Homo sapiens: one gene and its partners. The protein of the gene in region 2 purifies or fractionates together with the protein of the main gene of each other region. This does not show direct contact. Each region holds a gene or a part of one and is shown on either strand. Other genes may lie near its edges.

The links. The genes of interacting proteins can lie anywhere in the genome.
Region 1: the proteins of RBMS2 (region 2) and THUMPD3 purify together in Homo sapiens (co-immunoprecipitation; one large-scale study listed by IntAct). This does not show direct contact.
Region 3: the proteins of RBMS2 (region 2) and MCAT purify together in Homo sapiens (affinity purification with mass spectrometry; one large-scale study listed by BioGRID and IntAct). This does not show direct contact.
Region 4: the proteins of RBMS2 (region 2) and MRPL1 purify together in Homo sapiens (affinity purification with mass spectrometry; one large-scale study listed by BioGRID and IntAct). This does not show direct contact.

Annotation. Positions count from the first base shown.
Region 1 is NC_000003.12:9,383,554-9,387,053, forward strand, and holds the end of THUMPD3 (tRNA (guanine(6)-N(2))-methyltransferase THUMP3), read left to right. Parts: intron 1-658; coding exon 659-782; intron 783-970; coding exon 971-1,135; coding exon of another isoform or gene 1,136-1,179; 3' UTR 1,180-3,238; downstream 3,239-3,500. UniProt on the Homo sapiens protein: Catalytic subunit of the THUMPD3-TRM112 methyltransferase complex, that specifically mediates the S-adenosyl-L-methionine-dependent N(2)-methylation of guanosine nucleotide at position 6 (m2G6) in tRNAs.
Region 2 is NC_000012.12:56,520,541-56,524,619, reverse strand, and holds the start of RBMS2 (RNA-binding motif, single-stranded-interacting protein 2), read right to left. Parts: upstream 2,801-4,079; 5' UTR 2,597-2,800; coding exon 2,531-2,596; intron 1-2,530.
Region 3 is NC_000022.11:43,140,599-43,144,538, reverse strand, and holds the start of MCAT (malonyl-CoA-acyl carrier protein transacylase, mitochondrial isoform a precursor), read left to right. Parts: upstream 1-1,140; 5' UTR 1,141-1,190; coding exon 1,191-1,613; exon of another isoform or gene 1,614-1,647; intron 1,648-3,289; coding exon 3,290-3,377; intron 3,378-3,940. UniProt on the Homo sapiens protein: Catalyzes the transfer of a malonyl moiety from malonyl-CoA to the free thiol group of the phosphopantetheine arm of the mitochondrial ACP protein (NDUFAB1). This suggests the existence of the biosynthesis of fatty acids in mitochondria.
Region 4 is NC_000004.12:77,897,330-77,900,829, reverse strand, and holds part of MRPL1 (large ribosomal subunit protein uL1m precursor), read right to left. Parts: intron 1-3,500.

The DNA of each region.
Region 1 (3,500 bases), on a different chromosome or scaffold from region 2:
CTTGAATTATATATCCTACACAAAAAGGTGGTAGAAGACTTGGTTCTCATTCTGTTTCTCAGCATAAATGATTCTTTTTTTTTTTTTGGAGACAGAGCCCTGCTCTGTTGCCCAGGCTGGAGTGCAGTGGTATGATCTCGGCTCACTGTAACCTCTGCCTCCCGGGTTCAAGCGATTCTCCTGCCTCACCCTCCTGAGTAGCTCGGATTTCAGGCACATGCCATCATGCCCAGCTTATTTTTGTATTTTTAAAAGACAGGGTTTCACCATATTGGCCAGGCTGGTCTCAAACTCCTGACTTCAGGTGATCTGCCCGCCTCAGCCTCCCAAACTGCTGGGATTACAGGCATGAGCCACCAAAACACCTGGCCTAAATGATTTCTAATCACTTGTTTGGTTTATACAGTTTGACTGCTTATTATACTAAGAGGACAAGTCATATAACTAACACAGTTGTCTAAAAAAAATTTTTTTGATTCAGAATTCTAAGCAGTTTACTAACTCAACTTATTTCATAGACATGTAATGGCAAAGGTCTGGTTTCTAAAACTACAGCTATTTTTCATGCCTCAGGATGCATGAAACTGTTTTTGTTTCATATAGTCCTTCTATTTTGTATCTTTTGCAAGTGTTTGACTCATGAGACCTTCTATTATAGGATGGGATCCAAGAAGAGAAACTGGAACCTTTATCCAGCTTGCCTACGGGAGATGAGCCGTGTCTGCACACCTACCACAGGCCGAGCTGTACTACTTACTCAAGACACAAAATGCTTTACCAAGGTGCTATACACATTAGCTCAAAATCGCAGCCTGTGGCAACTTTGGGATCTTTTTGAGATTTGGGGATGTTTGTTTGGATAAGATTTGTTTTCTCTTCCCCTGAGGTTTCCTATCTTGGCAGTTAAGAATCCTAGTTGATGTAAAAGTAGATTGTCAACCTAATTGTTATTTTTTTTGTGTGTACACAGGCGTTATCTGGAATGCGACACGTATGGCGAAAGGTGGATACAGTCTGGGTGAACGTTGGTGGTCTTCGTGCTGCAGTTTACGTTCTGATACGTACACCTCAAGCTTTTGTTCATCCTTCAGAACAAGACGGAGAAAGAGGAACTCTTTGGCAATGCAAAGAATGAAGATGACTAATAGTACTTGTACTTCCCACCACTGGAAATGTTAGCATAAAAGAACTTGGAGAGGAAAAAAGTATTAACAAAACTGCAGTCTGCACTCTTTAAACCTGTTTAAGGCTCTTCATCCTGGTTAGCAAAAGGTGTGAATGTAATGTGATGGAATTTAAAAGTTTTATGAGACCAGGCACAGTGGCTCACGACTGTAATTCCAGCAGTTTAGGAAGCCGAAGTGTGCAGATCACCTGAGGTCCGGAGACCAGCCTGGCCAACATGGTGAAACCCTGTCTCTACTAGAAATACAAAAATTAGCCAGGTGTGGTGGCGGGCGCCTGTAATCCCAACTACTCAGGAGGCTGAGGCTAGAGAATCACTTGAACCCAGCAGGCGGAGGTTGCGGTGAGTCGAGATCACGCCATTGCACTCCAGCCTGTGCGACAAGAGCGAAACTCTGTCTCAAAAAGATTTTATAAGAAAGCAGAGCTTTTCCTTGAAGCTCTTTTGAAGTGGTAGCTTAATTAGTATTTTGTTGAAAATACTTTAAAGATGCCTAGTGAAAAGCCTACTAAAGTGCTGTGAGATTGGGGTTTAGAACATTTTATTTTCAGGCTTTATGGCCTATTTTCCATTGTGTCAAGTGCAAAACTACCCTGGCCCAAAGGAAGGGCAGAGAACATAATTACATCTTAGGCCACATTTCATTCTTTGCAGCTTTGCTAATCCAGTTGCTCAAGTTCTTTACCTCAACCTGAAGGAATGAAGCATTATTACATTTTGTGAATGGTGTTCAGCCTATAAGACGAAGTCTCACAAGACCTATAGGAAAGTTTACCATCTGCCTTAAATATTAAAATATCCATCTGTTATTCACATTAATACACAGAATGAAAATAGAGGTCTAGGAATTATCAAAGGTACTGCAAAAATACTGTATAGAACTTATTTGTAAATAGCACATACATTGATAGATGGGGTGTGGGACCAACAAACCAAATTAAAAGAAATTGTTTTTCTTTCAGTACACTAAGGTGTGTGTTTTCAAAACCAAACACAAACCTGTCAAGAGTATTTGTTGGCTAGTTTCTTAAAAGGCCAAGAGAAAAAAAATGATATATCTTTGGAAAACTTTTAATTTGGGAGTTATGTGAGTTGTTACTTTCTCCTGGATCACGATTCACATTTAATTGCTTTTCCAGTTGCAACAAGTCCTTCTTGAGAGTTTTGTGGAAAATGGTGCTTCCCTGGAACAAAGAGTAGTTGAGGTTTTTTTGTGGAACTCATCATAGTATTGTTTATTTTGGAGCCTCTGGCTGCAATCAGTATAGATTTTCAGTATCCTATTAGTATTATAATAGTACTCCTCTTAATACTTTCTGATGTCTCCATTGAGAATAAAAGGACACAATACTTTTGAAAGAAGAGTTCACATTAGCAGCACAGCCAGCAATCCTCATCTGGTTTCTCTGATCTCCTACCCCACACTTCATAATGAATGGGAAATAAGATGTTTATGAAGGTTTTATATCCTAGACTGGCCTTTTTACCACTATCAGAATTCACAGCTGCTTTGTTTATGGGCCGAACACAAAACTTTTCACCTGATGGGAGAAACCATTTAAACCTCAAATTAAGCAACCCACAGAACCAGGAAGTTCAAGGACCATGTCTGTTTTCACCACGATGTCTTTCCCCACCCCCCCACCCCCCACTCCACCCCCCACTAAGGGCAGGGTATTGTATCTGCCAGACTGGGTATTTGTTGAACAAGCGAGTATTTTCGCCTATTAGCTTAGTTTTTAAGGAAATCATTTTTTACTTGATTCATCATAGCTTTAATTCTATTACATACTACAATAAAAATTTGACAAGACTGATACAAATATGTAGTGGGCAATAGTTTGCCGTCTTCTTCCCTAGTATGGTGTTTTTCAATCTGGTGACTAGAATAGGCAGTGGGCTATAAGCAGGATTCATAAGGCCTGGAGCTGAGTTATATGTGACACTGCCACCTATTCATTGTGTGACCTTGGTTTTAACCTTCAAAGTGGGTCTCCTGGACTAAAAGAATGTGAAAAGATGGGGAAATAAATCTGTAATCTGAACATGGAATGACTTAGTTACAGACCAGACATATTGTTACTGGGAATGAAAAAGTCAATATATTTGAGGGGAAAAAAATGTAAATAAATATTGAGAAAGATTTTACAAATCTAATTAGGGGAAGATAGTTATCTCCCAATACTAGAGGGTACCAGAGTGCTTTTAAGGGGAACATTTGGTTACCCTTATTTCTTTAAAAAATGGCAGTTTAGGAAATTCTGCCCTAACTGTAGTCCCAATGTCAGATAGGACTCAGGTCTCCACTGCAAGG
Region 2 (4,079 bases):
AACATGGTGAAACCCCGTCTCTACTAAGAACACAAAAAAATTGTCCGGGTGTGGTGGCACTCCTGTAGTTCCAGCTACTTGTGAGGCTGAGGCAGAATTGCTTGAACCTGGGAGGCGGAGGCTGCAGTGAGCTGAGATCACACCACTGCACTCCAGCCTGGGTGACAGAGCGAGACTCCATCTCAAAAAAAAAAAAAGTAAAAATAAAAATATGAAAACCCTCCACGTTCACAAACTTATATAGGCACAAAAGGAGTCATATGCATGGCCACAGAGTGATGCACAGATACAGCATCCTTACATCTGATCATAACATTGACTTATAAGAACCCAAAGAATTGACAAATACATTAGTAATTAGTAATTATGTATCTACCTATCCTCCCCAACCAATTCCAACAATTCCTGAATTGTCAAACCTTACTAAGAGATTTCAACCCAAACCCACAACCATACCTCTTGTCCCCTATACTATCCTAGATTTAGAAGCTAATTAACTTTTTCCTATACTCCAAGGTGGGAGAGGGAGCAGAGAGCAAAAAGAGATTTTTAGATAGCTTCAAATACGTGAAACCTCTAATAGGGAAGCAATTCATTTTGGGAATTCATTTTATTTTAATGAGTTCTGGGTAACCTGAGAGAACTAGGAGGGAAAAAAATCAGGAAAGAAATTTTCACATGGTACTCTACAAGGTTTGAAAAGAATAAAGACATGTGAAATATTTCCCTTTCAAATATATACGTATAATATATAATGTATTATCTATACATATATTTGATAAAGGGATGTCAGTATATGTACATATAAACATATATTGATAACCAACAAATGTGTATAAACTCATATTTCATTTCTTTTTGAGATGGAGTCTTGCTCTGTCACCCAGGCTGGAGTGCAGTGGCACAATCCTGGCTCATTGCAACCTCTGTCCCCCAGGTTCAAGTGATTCTCCTGCTTCAGCCTCCTGAGTAGCTGGGATTACAGGCGCGTGCCACCAAGCCCAGCTAATTTGGGGTTTCACCATGTTGACCAGGCTGGTCTCGAACTCCTGACCTCAAGTGATCCACCCACCTTGGCCTCCCAAGTGCTGGGATTACAGGCATAAGCCACCATGCCCAGCCTCATTTCTTTTTTAAAGTAAATTTTATTGTGTATATTTAAGGTATACAACATGTTACGGGATACATATAGATAGTAGAAAGGTTACTATAGTGAAGTAAATTAATCATCCCACATAATTGTCCCTTTTGTTTCTTTTTGTGGCAAGAGGAGCTAAAGTCTGCTCATTTAGCATGAATCCCATATACAGTACAACTTTATCATCTATAGTCCTCATGTTGTACATTGGATCTCAGGATTTGTTCATCCTACATATCTACTACTTTGTATCCTCTGACCTATAGCTCCCCATTTCCTCTCCCCTCTACCCATATTTCTTCAGGATATAAACAAAATGAGTACCACACAGACTAAGCCCATAAATCAACATTAAGTGTTTTGGGTCTAAACATTTACCCACTGCATTGATCAGACACTTGTGTTTAAATCCACCTCTAATGGTCTCATTAGGTACATGAGAAAGCAGCAGGAATCGTTCCTCACCCTCCAACATTCCATTAGATGAGCAAAAGATTCCCTAAATGTCTATGTCACATTTTTTCTTCAAAGAACAGCTACAACACAAAGAGAGGGTAAAGAGTCTTCTTCCTGCTACAGCATGAAATTCCTCCTAATCAGTATGCTGTGCGCCCTGAAATGCCAGAAACTGCCAAATATATTCCTTGTCAAATATGGACAAGATTGTCCATCTCTCCCCATGTGCCCAAGGACAGCACAATTCTCTGGCAGCCATGGGTTAATCATAAAGACTCCTAGGATCACTGCAAAGTCTGGCTATCTGCAGAGGTCCAAGTATCAGTTCAAATACAAGATCCAAAGTATCACAGCGCTCTGTGCCTTAATCCCAAGGTGCGATGTCTCTCAAGACTCCTTCTCTATAGGCTGGGTGGGGTAGGATCTGTAGTCTAGAAGAGTATACCCAGCTCTTGATAAACTGTTGTGGTTTCTCTGACTATCTATGATTTCAGCTATCTAATACTACTGGTGGTATGGGTAGGAGGGAAGGTTGGGGAGAGAATGGAAACAGTTAATCAAAAAATAAAATAATCTTGTGGGGTGGGGTGGACTGGGGGACAGGGTCTGAAATGACATATTATCCTTGTGGAGATTGATACATCAGCAGGAAGTCAAACTAACTTCATTTCATAAGGATACAAACTTGCAAGCTTGATTTGTTTTTAATTCCCCTGTCTTTTCAGGCCTCGCAGAGACTGAAAGTTCCCTGAACTCCAGAACCAGTTGAGGAAAGATGCAGAAAGCAGTAGTGGAAAAGGGAGAAGCGCGGTGAGGAATTAGGAATCTTGAGAGAGGAAGCCCCTTCCCCTCTTTAAAAAGAATGTAAAAACCAAGGGCATTGCAAGATCCCCAGAAAAAGAAGTAGCTAGATACCAAAAAAGCGCTTTTCCCTACCTTCTTGTTGTTTCTATTGTAGCCAAAAGTCGAAATCCCGGGCCTGGAAGTCACGGATAGCAGCATTTTCTCTTTAATGTTAGGGAACGAGCGAGAGAGAGAGAGAGAGAGAAAGGGAGGGGGTAAGAAAGACGGGGAGGGAGGGAGGAGGGGAGCGAGGGAAAGGGGGAGAGGGAGGGAGGAAAAAAGGGAGGGGGAGGAGAAAGGAGGAGAAAAGGAGCAGGAGGAGAGAGATGAAGGGGGGCTGCGGGCAGAGAATGAGCTCGGGCTGCTCCTTTACGTCACTGAGAGAAGTTAACAGAGTCTGAATGAGGCAGAGGCACTTCCACTGGGTCCTAATGCCCAAGATGTTTTTTTTTGTTTGTTTTTCATAGTCTCAGGAGTTAAAGCTAGAAAGAAGAGTTCTTAGGTCTAACCCCTTTCAAATTTATCCCCTTTCCTCTATGAACAAGTTCCGATTCTCATATAAAGACAATGAGGGCTTTATTTCCACCCTTAGATCTCAGCTATAAGATTTCAAGCTTGATTTTAAAGGGGCTCCTGAGACATTGCCTTGGAGAACACGCAAAAAAAAAAAAAAAAAAAAACAGAGTTAGAGTGTGTGAGATAAGCTCAGGGCTTCCCCTACTTTACACTTACAGTGATTTTTTTTTTTTTTTTTTGAGACAGAGTTTTAGTCTGTCACCCAGGCTGAAGTGCAGTGGTGCAATCCCGGATCCGGCTCACTGCAACCTCCACCTTCCGCAATTCTCCTGCCTCAGCCTCTCGAGTAGCTGGGATTACAGGTGACCACCACCACACCCAGCTGATTTTTGTATTTTTTAGTAGGGACGGGGTTTCGCCATCTTGGCCAGGCTGGTCTCGAACTCCTGACCTCAAGTGATCCACCCACTCAACCTCCCAAAGTGCTGGGATTACAGGCATGAGCCACCACCCCTGGCCCATTTATAGTGATCTTAATGTACAAAGGAACAAACAGAGGAACACACCAAAGAGCAGAGCTAAGCAAAACAGAGTATGGGGTATAACTAGTTTCAGATCCTTAGATGTGTTTCTCTTGGGTCATACCAATGGGCTGATGCCCCTCACTCCTATTTCAGATTCTCCGAGGAATGAGTTCATACTTAAGAAGGAATTATCAGACTGGACTATATCATGAAACTTGGTGCCTTGTTATTTCTCTAACAATTGCAGGCTATCTTATTTAACACTTTACCCTGCTATTTCCTCATCTTTAAGATCCATGAAACTGAAACAATTACAGTAACTCACCAAACCTGGAGTTTATGTCTAAATTGAAGTCTACAGTTGGGATGTCTGCTTTGAGTTGTCTTTGAGCTGTTTAAAAAAAAAAAATACTTAAGAAGCATATGCTTCAACAGAATAAAAACACAAAATTCTTAGGAAGGAATACAAATTTCAGAGTCAAGAACCTAATAGAGTTGCAACACTTACCTCTACTAGTTTCCAAAGAATGTCTTTGTAGGCGTAACCTTAACAAGAAAGGAAACCAAAAACTTAAGAATGATATCCAGTAACCCCTACCAAT
Region 3 (3,940 bases), on a different chromosome or scaffold from region 2:
GCCTCCCGAGTAGCTGGAACTATAAGCGCCCACCACCACGCCCAGCTAATTTTTGTATTTTTAGTAGAGACGGGGTTTCTCCATGTTGGCCAGGCTGGTCTTGAACTCCTGACCTCAAGTGATCCATCTGCCTCAGCCTCCCAAAGTACTGGGATTACAGGCATGAGCCACTGCGCCTGGCCGAGCCTGTGTCTCTTGAGTTGCTTTTAGGTTAACATTAGATAACCCCAATTTCCAACCTCCATTCTGTCACTAACCACCTGTCACTCAATCTCTGAGCAGCTATCCATCACAGCGTTGCTGTGAGGAATTAAATAAGCTAATATCTGAAACACATTCAAGGCTTTGTTCAATAGCATAAAGATCTATTGGATGCTTATTATGTGCCAAGCACTGTGTGGTTTGTAAGAAAACATTATAAAAGAGAGCTGTTGTATAGTTGGGAACTGGCAACGGATGGTCGGCCATGCCAACTCCTGTGGTTGGGAGGATCATATGCAAGAAATGTGGTTGCTGGCCGGGCGCGGTGGCTCACGCCTGTAATCCCAGCACTTTGGGAGGCCGAGGCGGGTGGATCACCTGAGGTCAGGAGTTCGACACCAGCGTGGCCAACATGGTGAACCCGTCCCTACTAAAAATACAAAAATTAGTCAGGCATGGTGGCGGGCGCCTGTTAATCCCAGCTACTCGGGAAGCTGAAGCAGGAGAATCGCTTGAACCTGGGAGGCGGCGGTTGCAGTGAGCAAAGAACACGCCACTGCACTCCAGCCTGGGCGACAGAGCAAGACTCCGTCTCAAAAAACAACAACAAACAACAACAACGACAACAACAAAAACCATCAATGTGGAAGAGTTTCAAGTGCTCTTCATGTGCCAGGTAGAAAGCGTAAATACTACATTGCGTTGCGTTATTTATTCCATAAATATCTGTTGAGGACCCACTGTGGTGTGGCATCGTGTTCCGTTCAACGGCTATGGCTGTTTAAGTAAACGCATGAGTCCCTCCAGGACCCCAGAACGCAGCCCGAAGGGCCTCAGAGCCGGGGCGGAACCAGCGTCTGCGGAACCTTTCTTCCCGCTCCCGGTGCCCCGGAAGCCCCGGCAGGAAATGCGTCAGGGACCACGCTGCGCCGCGCCGCCGCAGTCGGGCCTCGGTCGCCACGGTAACGCGCGCGGGCAGGTGTCCGACCATGAGCGTCCGGGTCGCACGGGTAGCGTGGGTCAGGGGCTTGGGCGCCAGCTACCGCCGCGGCGCCTCGAGCTTCCCGGTGCCTCCGCCGGGCGCCCAGGGTGTAGCGGAGCTGCTGCGAGATGCGACCGGGGCGGAGGAGGAGGCGCCCTGGGCGGCGACGGAGCGGCGAATGCCGGGCCAGTGCTCCGTGCTGCTCTTCCCGGGCCAGGGCAGCCAGGTGGTGGGCATGGGCCGCGGTCTGCTCAACTACCCGCGCGTCCGCGAACTCTACGCCGCCGCCCGCCGCGTGCTGGGCTACGACCTGCTGGAACTGAGCCTGCACGGGCCGCAGGAGACCCTGGACCGCACCGTGCACTGTCAGCCCGCGATCTTCGTGGCATCGCTGGCCGCTGTCGAGAAACTACATCACCTGCAGCCCTCGGTGAGGCCCGAGGCCCCGTGACAGGAGGGGGAAGGTGAGCTCTGCCTGAGCTCTTGGCCCTGCCAGAGGCTTCCGCCTGCCATTCCGGGGGCTCCCACGTCTTACTCATTCGATCGAGTTTTTTTTTTTGTTTGTTTTTGTTTTTTTTTTTGAGACGGAGTCTCGCTCTGTCGCCCAGGCTAGAGTGCAGTGGCGCGATCTCGGCTCCGCCTCCCGAGTTCACGCCATTCTCCTGCCTCAGCCTCCCAAGTAGCTGGGACTACAGGCGCCCGCCACCATGCCCGGCTAATTTTTTGTATTTTTAGTAGAGACGGGGTTTCATCGTGTTAGTCAGGATGGTCTTGATCTCCTGACCTCGTGATCTGCCCGCCTCGGCCTCCCAAAGTGCTGGGATTACAGGCATGAGCCACCGTGCCCGGCCCGTTTTGTTTTGTTTTTTGAGACAGAGTCTTGCTCTGTCACCCAGGCTGGAGTGCAATGGCGCAGTCTTGGCTCACTGCAACCTCTGCCTCCCAGGTTCAAGCAGTTCTCCTGCCTCAGCCTCCGCAGTAGCTGGGATCACAGGTGCACACCACCACGCCCGGCTAATTTTTTTATTCTTTACTTAAATCCTCCCAGGTTCACCCACCTCGGCCTCCCAAAGTGCTAGGATTACAGGTATGAGCCACTGCACTGGCCTAAATGAAGGAACATTGAGATGAGTTGAGAATGTCACTTCACTTGAAGGTGGTGGATTGATTGCTATTAATATTTAATAAGACGGTAAATGTTAAGCTAGCACTTGAGATCCTTTACCCTATTTCACCTTCACACCACCTTGTGAGGTTAATACTGTTATTTGATGGTTGAGGAATGCAGACTCAGGGATATTAAAAGAATTAGTTAAGTGGTCCTGTTGAATCGTCATCATAATATTCATTCACTGCTTACCCTAGTCTGGGTCTGTGCTAAGCACTGTATAGACATTATATTCACATAATTCTCTCATCCGCCCTTTGGGGTAGGCCCTGTTCTTCCCTCATTTCACAGATGAGATAAAAATGCTCTTGGCCGGGCGAGGTGGCTCACGCCTATAATGCCTATAATCCAGCACTTCAGGAGGCTGAGGTGGGTGCATCACGAGGTCAGGAGTTCAAAACCAGCCTGGCCAACATGGTGAAACCCCGTCTCTACTAAAAATACAAAAATTAGCCAAGTGTGGTGGTGGACACCTGTAATCCCAGCAACTCGGGAGGCTGAGGCAGGAGAATTGCTTGAACCCGGGAGGCGGACGTTGCAGTGAGCCGAGATCACGCCATTGCACTCCAGCCTGGGCAACAAGAGCAAAACTCCGCCTCAAAAAAAAAAAAGTCATGCTCTTAACTTGTGCACAACGATATGGCCTGAGAGCCTGCTGCAGGGCCATGGCAAGGGAATCCAGAGCCCTGGGTTGGCGTCAGTGTGACCATGGACGGAGTTGATGGACTGTAACTAACCAGGAAAGCTCCTCCTAAATAAAGGGGCAGGACTCAATGATTGTCAAGGTCACTTTTGTGTGTCCTCTTCCAGCTGGTGCACCAAGTTCGTAGAACCTGGCTCACTGAGATGCTGAACACCCCGCCAGCTCTCAGGTACAGAGCCCTGGAACTGGGATCCCCAGGAGAGTGAGGGCTCACGTTCTGCATCTGTCCCCACAGGTGATTGAGAACTGTGTTGCTGCTGCTGGATTCAGTGTGGGAGAGTTTGCAGCCCTAGTGTTTGCCGGAGCCATGGAATTTGCTGAAGGTACAGGAAGGAGTTTGGTTTTATGCAAGGCTGTGGTCTTGGGCTCATTAGGGGTAAGGGACACTGCCAAAAATGATACTGGACCCACTCAGGTGATGGGAAGGGAGCACATGGACAGGGGTGACATTGGCACATGAGGACAGGGCTTTGCTGTGATTCCTTTTCAAGACTGAAGGATTCATTAGGGATTTCCCTTATTTTTGTAATCTCATGAAATCTGCTTGCTGAACTGTCTAACCCGCTATCCTGTGCACTCATACCTGCAGCACCTGCAACACGAGAGTATGTGTTCAGTAGATATTCGTTGAATTAAAGAGTAAATAAATATTGGATCTGGAGCCATATCAGTTTTACTTCTTAAGATTTTTGCTGGCCAGGAACCATGGCTTACGTCTGTAATCCCAGTGCTTTGGGAGGCCAAGGCAGGAGGACCACTTGAGGCCAGGAGTTCCAGACCATCTTGGGCCACATAGTGAGACCTTCATCTCTGCCCCCAACAAAAAACAAAAATTACGTTGGGTGCAGTGATTCACACCTGTAATGCCAGCACTTTGGGAGGCAGA
Region 4 (3,500 bases), on a different chromosome or scaffold from region 2:
CTCATATGGCTACCCTACCACTTATACAGTTCTCACAATACTCATTCTGATAAGCAAATCTTACATCATTCTTCTGAGCTAAAGTTTTCAATGGCTCCTATTTGCAAAGAGGATAAAATCTAATCTCCATGGTATAGCACACAAAGCCTGCTGTGACCTAGCCCACTGTCTATCACTGTCCAATCCCATTGACCACCAGTATCTGATAACATTTTATATACCAAATGATAGAAAGCTGCTTATAATTTCTTGAACACTACTGGCTCTCTCATACTTTTGTATATGTAAAATGGCCATTTCCTCTGCCTGATTCATGTAAGGAAAGCAAATGCCTATTCATGCTTAACCTCTCAACTGCAGTCTTCTTTATATAATCTCATTCTACAAAGCAGTCCCTCATTCCTCTACAATACTTTGTACATTTTCTACCAATAAACTTATTGCATTTTAGTGCAGCAGTTTGCTCTCATCTCTCTCTCCTCAGTGTTTATCTTCTTAAAGACAGAAAATGTCTTTTCAGTTTATTTTTCAATCCTCAGTACTAAGTGTAGTCAGCTGGCACATAGGTAGGCATGCCAATAATTATCTGCTTTTTCAACAAATAAGTTATGAAGGTGATATATAAATACATGAAAAAGAATAGCTTCTCCTAAAGTAATTGTGGAGAATGAATAGCTACTTTAGGAATGATAGGGAGCTAATGATAATCATAGTGGCCCACACATCATATGTTATGTACCCAGCTTGTGCTTCATACATTATCACAAAAACAGTATGGGATGGATGTTATAATGAAACTCATTTTGTAGATGAATAAATAAGGCACAAAATGTTAAAAAGTTTGCTCAAGGTCACAGTAACTGACAAAGACAAGACAAAGAGAGATCTATACTAACCACTATTCTACTCTGCTTTTCAATACAGGCAAATGTTAAATCATCACTGCTATTTCTAGGGCTTTGCTATCCCTTACTGCTATTTAACTGCTTTCCTCTTTCTCCACTTTCACTTTTCTCTGTGTTTTTAGGCTCTTCTTTCTTCATTTTCTTTCTTCCTTTCACTTTCTTTTCCTTTAATTCTCTATTCAATTTCCATAATGAACATAACCTATACTATACGATCAAGTATTTCCTCCTAAAATACCTTCTCTTTTCTTTTTTTAATCAAGGAAAACAAAGAAGAAATAGTTAGAAAAGAGGTGAGTTAGGACTGCATACATTACCTCCTGAAAGAAGTTGCAAGAAACAGAGAAAACTAAGAACAGACCTTTGAATATGGCAAAAGAAAAACCTGTGATAACTGAGAGAGCAATATTTTAGCTAAATTATGGAAGAAAAAGCTGTAAGGAATACTAATGCTTAGTAAGAAAATGAAGCCAATTGCTGAAGACCATTATTTGAAAAACTTAACATAAAACACATAAAAAACTAAGATCGCAGCTGGAAAGGATAGTTGAATCAAATGAAGGTGCGGGGGGGCTCGTGATTTGCTTTTTGTTTGTTTAAAGAAATCTGAGCATAAATGGCCAGGCATGGTTGCACATGCCTGTAATCCCAGCACTTTGGGAGACTGCAGCAGGTAGATCACTTGAGCTCATGAGTTCAAGACCAGCCTGGCCAACATGGCAAAACCCCGTCTCTACTGAAAATACAAAAAAAAAAAAAAAAAATGAGCCAGGCGTGGCAGCACATGCCTGTAGTCCCAGCTATTCTGGTGGCTGAGGCAAGAGAATCACCTGAACCCAGGAGGCAGAGGTTGCAGTGAGACAAGATCATGTCTCTGCACTCCAGCCTGGGTGACAGAACGAGACTCTGTCTCAAAAAAAAAAAAAAAAAAAAAATCTGTGCATAAGTAACTGTAAAAAGTTAAACTAGTTTCTCTACTGCAGAAAACAAAACTGTTAGTTCTATGACCGCAAGAACTTTGTCTGTCTTGTTCACTGCTATCACACCCAAGGCTTGGCACATAGTAGATACTCAACTACTATAAATACAATTATTCTGATAAAAAAAAAACTATAAATTGTATATAGTCCAAGCTGGGTGCGGTGGCTCACGCATGTAATCCCAGCACTTTGGGAAGCTGAGGGATGTGGATCATTTGAGGTCAGGAGTTTGAGACCAGCCTGGCCAACATGGTGAAACCCCATCTCTACTAAAAATACAAAAAAAATTACCTGGGCATGGTGGCGCACACCTGTAATCTCAGCTACTCAGGAGGCTGAGGCAGGAGAATTGTATGAACCCGGGAAGGGGAGGTTGCAGTGAGCCGAGATGTGCCACTGCGCTCCAGCCTGGGCAACAGAGCAAAACTCCGTCTCAAAAAAAAAAAAATTGTATACTCCATTTTTAAGTTACAGTTTAATTTTATATCTTCTACCAACTGAATGAGTGCTGGATTAAACATTCATTCATTCATTCATTCATTCATTCATTCAAATATTTGTAGAGTACGTACTATTTTCCAGGTACTATACTCTAGGCAATGGGAATGTAGCAATGGACAAAACAAAACCATCTTTGCTCTAATGAGAGGCACTGAACACACATCACACACACACACACAAAAAAAAGATGCTAAGAGTGATATGTCCTAAAATGAATACAAAAGCATAATAATGATATTTAGTGATAATAGGAAGTGGTAGTAATATTTTATATAGGATGGTCATGGAAGGTCTCTCTGTTTAGATGATGTTCGAATGAGAAAGTGAGCAAGGCAAGTAAGCAAACAGTACTACTACAGACCTATGCAACAGTAAATCCAAAGACCTGAGGAGGGAGAGTGCTTAGTGTGTATGAGGAAGATCAAGGAGGCTGCCAAGGCTGAAGTAAAGGAAGCAAAGGAAAGCATAACAGAACCAGCTATAATAGATCCATATTTCATCTACAACAATTGTAACAGTACCTAATCATTAATGGAGTCTTTCATACATGGATAGTTTTTAAACTAATATGTGAAGGGGCAGAAATTTAGAAAAATTTCAAATTCATTACCTTGCAAAAATTCTCCGTTTTGGTTATTTTCCCTTATATAACCAAAACTTCTGATTGTTCCAATAATGCAAACAAAACCCTGAAGTACAAGGTACTATTCTATGAGTTAAAAATGCTACACATTACAAGAACTTTAATATCCATGAGTCTCACGTATGATACAACACCAAATTCCTCACGGAAAGCAGTGTCCTGCTCATATGTGGATATCTTTTGGACAAGTCTGCTGGGATATCGTTTGGACAAGACATCGAGTGGAGCACTAGTGTTCAATTCTAAGAGTTAGAAGTTAAGAGGAATACACATTAGTGTAATTCTAATTTTCTAATCATGTCCCTTTCTTACCTGACAATAACTTAGTATGGTATAAAAGAATTCAACTGTTCCCATATATGCCACAGTACCTATCACAGGTTAATATGCATAATAAACATCTGATACCATTAAGTCAAGATTTTTTTTTGGCTGGGCACAGTGGTTCACGCCTGTAATCCCAGCACTTTG